Linked DNA regions of Homo sapiens. The protein of the gene in region 1 interacts with the protein of each later gene in a pairwise test. Each region holds a gene or a part of one and is shown on either strand. Other genes may lie near its edges.

Region 1 (3,749 bases):
TATGTGCAAGAATGCTTAACAGCCTCATGAACATCTGAAATACCAAATTTTCAAGCAGTTAGGGTAGATGAGTACATTGATAAAGTTACCACACAGTTGTTGCCAAACTATTTATTAACATAAAGGTTTTTGGCACTTTTGCACATAACCACCTTATAGACTAACCACACTACTCCAAAAGATAGAGAATGGCTCTCCCCTTTTTACATAAGAAATAGAAACTCTTTGGAGTTGTAGTTCACTTTGTATCATGTTGACCATTATTTCTTGTGATTCTCTTCAGAGTGGTGATTTGCTGAGATGCTTCAAGGAACCAACCCCAGGGTAACTAGTTGGAGGAGCCAGAAGTTGTGTACAAATCCAGTCTCTTCTCTTCCTTGTTTAGGAGCAGCACCCTGAGGAGGAACTGATCAAGACTAAGCAGGATGAAGTCAATGCAGCCTGGCAGCGGCTGAAGGGCCTGGCTCTGCAGAGGCAGGGGAAGCTCTTTGGGGCAGCAGAAGTTCAGCGCTTTAACAGGTGTCAAGCCAGAGTGGGCTTTGGGGAATGGGTCTCAACCTGGAGGGGAGTTGTGAAGCACAGGGCATGTGCTGGTGAGCTGTCGAGGCTGACTAGGCCTTGGTCCCATGGGGTGTTCCTAGTTCTAGGGAGTCATCATTGCTGTGGATTAACTGGTGCCTTTGTTCTGTAGGGATGTGGATGAGACTATCAGTTGGATTAAGGAAAAGGAGCAGTTAATGGCCTCTGATGATTTTGGCCGAGACCTGGCAAGTGTTCAGGCTCTGCTTCGGAAGCACGAGGGTCTGGAGAGAGATCTTGCTGCTCTAGAAGACAAGGTGGGTTTTACAAGCAGCTGATTCTGTAAATAAGTTACCAAGGGTCAGGAGAATAGTTCTGACGGAGTTCATTTCTAGGTCAAAGCCCTGTGTGCTGAGGCTGACCGCCTGCAACAGTCCCACCCTCTGAGTGCAACACAGATTCAAGTGAAGCGAGAGGAACTGATTACAAACTGGGAGCAGATCCGCACCTTGGCGGCAGAGAGACATGCACGGCTCAATGATTCATACAGGTGCAAATAATGCTCCAGGTCTTAACCAGTATCATTTGGCTTCTTTTTTGGAAGCAGGAATAGCAGAGTTAAGGGTCTGTTCTGTGTTCTGTGAAAGTGTCAGGTATCACCTACAAATGCAAATCACTTCTTACCTATGTTCTCTCTGTTTGGAGACTGGCAACTGTATCATGTGTAGTATACGTATGGTATTTACAACTTCATAAATTCTTCTATTCTGCATCACTGCATTATGATTGATAGAATGGGAATGTCCCTTTAAGTATCTGAGTATCACATGAAATATCTTATTAAAACCAGGATTAGAAAGGAAAAGAATCCTTGCTAGCCAAGGGTTGAACCTGGGAATAACAAGGAAGTTGAAAATGTGGGACAGGATTGGGGCATTATAGTGATGGAGAGAACCTAAGTTTTAAAGGGTTGATTTCAGCCTTCTCTTGCTTTCCTTCACAGTCTAGATTGGGAAATTTTCATATTTCCCAGAATTAGAATTTATATAGTTTGTTAGACATTTGAGAACATAGAATTCAGAGCTTTAGGGAGGCCATTTTCCACCCTGGAACCTCCGCTGGAAACATAATGTCTTCCTTTGGTTTTCCCTAGGCTTCAACGCTTCCTTGCTGACTTCCGTGACCTCACCAGCTGGGTGACTGAGATGAAAGCCCTCATCAATGCAGATGAGCTTGCCAGTGATGTGGCTGGGGCTGAAGCCCTGCTAGATAGACACCAAGAGCACAAGGTAATGGTATCTCTAGAATCTTCCAGAAGTGAAGATTTTAGCTTATAATGCACCAGTTTATCAGTGTTGGGTGAGGCCTATAGTCGGCGTTGGTACCATGTTATTCACAGGTGTTTCTCATCATGAGGATTATGGTTGGTTTTGCCTTTGGAGACCTGGTCTACCTGCTTCTGATAGAGGCTTAACTGGGTTCAGTGTCAAGAGGTTCACTGTGGTCCATAAAAGCAAACAGACAAGCTCTGGCGAGATAGAAGTGCTACTACTTGGCACATTGATCCTTTGTGATGTAAAAAGTATTTGTTGGGCCAGGCACGGTGGCTTATGTCTGTAATCCCAGCACTTTGGAAGGCTGAGGCGGGTGGATCATGAGGTCAAGAGATCAAGACCATCCATGCCAACATGGTGAAACCCCATCTCTACTAAAAATGCAACAGTTAGCTGGTCATGGTGGCACGCGCCTGTAGTCCCAGCTATTCAGGAGTCTGAGGCAGGAGAATCGCTTGAACCCGGGAGGCAGAGGTTGCAGTGAGCCAAGATCACACCATTCCACTCCCGTCCGGACAACAAGAGTGTTTCACTCTGTCTCAAAGAAAAAAAAAAAAAAAAAAACCTTCTGAGAGGTTTTAATGTGCTAGATACAAAATCAATATACTGAAAGTCAAACATGTTTCTCTACACTAGCAACAGAAACATAATTTTTAAAAATACTACTTATTAGAGCAGAAAATATAAAGTACTTAGGAATAAGTCTAACAAAAGAGTGTAAGACACTTCTGGAGAAAACTATAAAACTTTGTTAAAAGGCATTAAATAAAAACTGAATAGATAGAATGATTTATCTAGTACACAGATGGAACGATCTTCTGTGAAGGTGTAAATTCCCACCAGGATATATACCGTTAATGCAGTTCCAGTCAAGTGCTCAGCAGGTATATGTGTGTGTTTCTTTTTGCAATGAGATAAGCTGATTCCAAAACTGATTTGGAAGAAAAAAATTCAAAAAAAGCTGAGACAATGTTGAAGATCATAATGGGGCCAGGGAGGGACTCGCCCTACCAGGTTCTATAAAATCATAGTAAACAAGTCCATTTGGCACAAAGAAGACAGAGCCCTGGAATGAAAGAGAGCTCAGACCCATGTGAATGTGTGGAACCTTGACAAATGACAGGTGACCTGAAAAGCCATTTGGAAAGGATTTCATCAGTGAGTGATACTCTCACATTTGATGACCTAGACTGATTATGTATTAGGAAATCTGGCCTAATCTTTCATTTTGTTTCTCATTTTAGATGTCATAGTCTGGCTTATAATGCTTATGTAAAATTCAGCACCTTGTTTTTATTTTGTAAGATGCTGGGCACAAATCATGGCTTTGTTTTTTTCTCCTGTAGGGTGAAATTGATGCCCATGAAGACAGCTTCAAATCTGCAGATGAATCTGGACAGGCACTGCTTGCTGCTGGTCACTATGCCTCAGATGAAGTGAGGGAGAAGGTAAGAGAAGAGAAATGGAGCTTTTGAGGAGCAAATTACACCTTTCACTAAGTCTCTGAAAGCTATTATTCATCCTTAAATATCCAGAGAACGCATTCACCATGATATGTGAGAAACTTTCCTTTCTCTGCAGAGGTTTAAAAAGAAGGTATATGTATAGTGTGCTGATTTCCTGAGAGACAGTCCTCCTTATCTGGGGCATGTGTGGCATGTTTCCTACTTACAGGGACTTTCTGTAGGGAGCTGAGTCTTGCATTAGGAGTTGGAGCAAAGAGGAAACAAATTTTTATAAAATGATACATAGGCCAGGTGTGGTGTGACCCCAGCACTTTCAGAGGCCAAGGCAGGAGGATTGCTTGAGGCCAGGAATGGGAGACCATCCTGAACAACATAGTGAGACCCCCATCTGGACAAAAAATTAATAAATTAGCCAGACATGGTGGCACAT
Region 2 (3,749 bases), on another chromosome or scaffold:
TTAGTTATCTCAAGAGTGGCCTTGCTGTAAAAACCAGTCTGGGCCTCTCTTGTTCTCTTGCAACATGATCTCGTCCACCATGTTATGATGCTGCAAGAAGGCCCTTACCAGATGCAGCCCCTCAGCCTTAGACTTCCCAGCCTCCAGAACCAGGAGTCAAATAAACTTCTATTGTTTATAAACTACCCAGTCTAACTTACTTGCAACACAAAACTATTATACTAAGCCGGATACCAAAGGCTACTTATGATACGATTTCCATATACAAATGTCTATATAGGACAATCCATAGAGACAGAAAGCAGATTAGTGGCTGCCAGGGGCTGAGGGAGGGGTAATGGGGAGTAACTGCCCATGGGGACAGGGTTTCTACTTGGCGTGATGAAAATGTTCTGGAATTGGGTAGTGGTGATGTTTACACAAGGTTGTGAACCACTGAACTGCACACTTTAAAGGGGTGAATTTCATGGTGTGTGACTTATAGCTCTAATTTTTGCTTTGTTTTGTTTTTTGGAGACAGAGTCTCGCTCTATCCCCCAGGCTGGAGTGCAGTGATGCAATCTTGGCTCACTGCAACTTCTACCTCCCAGGTTCAAGCAATTCTCATGCCTCAGCCTCCCAAGTAGCTGGGATTACAGGTGTGCACCATCACATCCGGCTAATTTTTGGTAGAGATGGGGTTTTGCCATGTTGGCCAGGCTGGTCTCGAACTCCTGACCTCAGGTGATCCACCAGCCTCGGCCTCCCAAAGTGCTGGGATTACATGCAAGAGCCACCACACCTGGCCCTCTAATTTTTTAAGAGAAATTAGAACAAATCTTTTTCTGAAACCAAAGGAAAGTAGGAGAGGAGGGCTAGAAAGTGAAAATAGAAGAGAAGCTAAAGGAACTTGAGAAACCTCACTCCGAATGGCCTTCGATGTCCCCTCAGAACAAAGGGCCTTTGAAAATGCTCTTGACACTTCCCAAGGCACACCACCCAACCAGGGGGGTCGGGGGATCCACAGCCTGCCTGGTACTCACCAACACCTGTGGCACGGAGAATCCCTCGTTCTGTTGCCTTTGGCTCTGCTCTTTGCCCCAGCTGGGAGACACAACTGGGTTTGCATGGTGGAGTTCCTGCACATGAAGAAAGACACAGGCACTGAGAGAGAGAGGGCTTGCAGGGGAAAACAAACTCTTGTTTCTCAACTCAAACTCTCCTTCAGCTTCAATATGGGCTTCAGATTCTCTGGGCTGAGCAAGTGTGATGGGTAGCAAAGGGATCTTGCCCAATAGCTAATGAACTCAGGACCCAACCCACAAACACCCTCCCCTCTGCCCCAAGGGGCTGAGGCTGTCTCACCTCAGAAGCCTGGGGCCAAATTCAAGGAGACCCAAACAGGGCCTTACTACAGAGGGAAAGAAGTCAATGCAACAGATGAAGCTTTGTCATCCTGTGGACGCTAAGTGCCACAAAGCCTAAGCCACGTCTGTCTTCTTCACATGGCAGGCGCTTAAGAAGCATTTAGTGCCTGCGTACAGGAAGGAGCCAGGTGACGCCAGCCTTACCCCTGGAGGCCAGGGTCCTGCACTGGTCAAGCATCCTGTATTTGCACAGGCTCCTCCGTGCGCTGTCCAGCAATGCCCACTCCTGGATGAACTCCACGGCCACATCCTCAAAGGTGACGGATTCCTAAAACAGCACACACATTCTGGCTCGGCAAATACCACCCCCACCACTGAGCAGAACGACTGGTTATCACTGGAGAAGAGAAAATGTTCAGACACAGCAGGCATGGAAAATCCAGCCTAAAGCCTATTTTTGTAAATAATGTTTTCTTGGCACACAGCCACGTGCATTTATTTACAATGCATCAATGGCTGTTTTGAGGCCACAACGGCAGAACTGAATAGTTGTGACAGAGATCACATGGGCCACCAAGCTGAAATGTTTACTTTCTTTTAACATTTGGATAAATCCTAAAGTGTAAAGTTATGGCTCTCTGTGTAACTCCACTGACTTGTGATGGCAGAGCCTGTCCCTCCCTGCTTAGAGAGTTTTTCCTAAACTCCTTATTACAAATTGGCACAGCATCACAAATTTGGGATTGAAAGCTTAATTTCTGTGAAGTCCCTGGGATCCCCCAAGACTTACGTCCTTAATTATATACTTGTGAAAGTAGGACTTCCATTGCATCTGAGAGTCTTTTTCTTTTTTTCTTTTTTTTTTTTGAGACAGTCTTGCTCTGTCGTCCAGGCTGGAGTGCAGTGGCGCCATCTCGGCTCACTGCAACCTTCACCTCCTGGGTTCAAGCGATTTTCCTACCTCAGCCTCCCAAGTAGCTGGGATTACAGGCACGTGCCACACACCCAGCTAACTTTTTGTATTTTTAGTAGAGACAGAGTTTCACCATGTTGGCCAGGCTGGTCTTGAACTCCCAGCCTCAAGTGATCTGCCCGCCTCGGCCTCCCAAAGTGCTGGGATTACAGGCATGAGCCACCACGCCCGGCCTCATCTGAGAATCCTTTTAATTGCAGAATTCTTCAGAGCAGTGCTGTCCAACAGACATCACTCTCTGATGATGGGAATGTTCCATGCCTGTGCTTTCCAGAAAGGGGCTACCAGCACATGTGGCTGTTGAGCACTTGGGCAATGTGACTGGGGCGACTGAGAAACTGAGCGCTTAAACTTTTTAATTTTTTTTTTTTTTTTTTTTTTTTTAGAGACAAGGTTTTACTCTGTAGCTTAGGCTGGAGTGCAGGGTCACAATCCTAGCTCAATGCAGCCTCAATCTCCTGGGCTCAAGCTATCCTCCCACCTCAACCTCCCAAGTAGCTGCGATTCCAGGCACACACAACCATGCCCGGCTAAATGTACTGAATCTTAATTAATTTAAGCTGAATTTATATTTCTATGGCCACATGTGTTTTCAATAGGTCTCACCAGGGATGACAAGGATGGCCCTGGAGGAGCTCCGCTCAGAGCCCCAGGGTCTGCTGTGGGACTCTTCTTCCATGCCACCTCTAGAGGTCAGGCACAGAAGGAAGTCCCTAGGTCCCCTAGGGCAGGGATGAGGATGCTCCTCACTCACCCTTCCCTTTCTTCCTCAGTTGGGGACGGAAGTGGCGAGAGAGAAGACAGGGCCCAGAGGACATAGTTATCCTACATATCCACCCCTTCAGCCACAGGAGCCCCCAGTTTCCTCACCATGACACTGGAGCCAGGGTTTGAGGTCTCAGTCGGTGTTCTCCCTGCAATAAAGGAGACACTGAGGTAAAAGAAGGGGTGAGGACGGAAGCAGAGCATTTTGGGGGATCTCCAGCAGAGTGGTCACAATCAAAACCCTTACAGGACATTTATCTCCATAAGCAACATGTTGGCCCCCAAGGCACCTTTCAAACAACAGCCTCTAGTGACTGCTACTGACTCTTCCCATGTCATCAAAGGAACATTTTAACTTCTAGCTTCCCTCAAAATACTTCTAAGATCTTCTACTTTTCCTCCACTGCCCATATGAAGGTGTGATTTGATATTTATTTCTTAAACGATTTTGGCCTCTCTCTCTCCAACTGTGATGTAAACCTTTTTTTTTGAGTCTCACTCTGTTGCTCAGGCTGGAGGCCAAGGTGGGTGGATCACTTGAGGTCAGGAATTTGAAACCAGCCTGGCCAATATGGTGAAACCCCATCTCTACTAAAAATACAAAAATTAGCTGGGCATGGTGGCAAACGCCTGTAATCCCAGCTGCTCGGGAGGGAGGCTGAGGC

The links. Proteins that work in one complex are often made in the same cells at the same time.
Region 2: the proteins of SPTAN1 (region 1) and ZNF333 interact in a two-hybrid assay, tested with the Homo sapiens proteins (one study listed by BioGRID).

Annotation. Positions count from the first base shown.
Region 1 is NC_000009.12:128,576,438-128,580,186, forward strand, and holds part of SPTAN1 (spectrin alpha chain, non-erythrocytic 1), read left to right. Parts: intron 1-385; coding exon 386-519; intron 520-691; coding exon 692-836; intron 837-914; coding exon 915-1,069; intron 1,070-1,672; coding exon 1,673-1,808; intron 1,809-3,199; coding exon 3,200-3,301; intron 3,302-3,749. UniProt on the Homo sapiens protein: Fodrin, which seems to be involved in secretion, interacts with calmodulin in a calcium-dependent manner and is thus candidate for the calcium-dependent movement of the cytoskeleton at the membrane.
Region 2 is NC_000019.10:14,692,935-14,696,683, reverse strand, and holds part of ZNF333 (zinc finger protein 333), read right to left. Parts: intron 3,234-3,749; 5' UTR 3,193-3,233; coding exon 3,190-3,192; intron 1,675-3,189; coding exon 1,551-1,674; intron 1,119-1,550; coding exon 1,023-1,118; intron 1-1,022. UniProt on the Homo sapiens protein: May be involved in transcriptional regulation.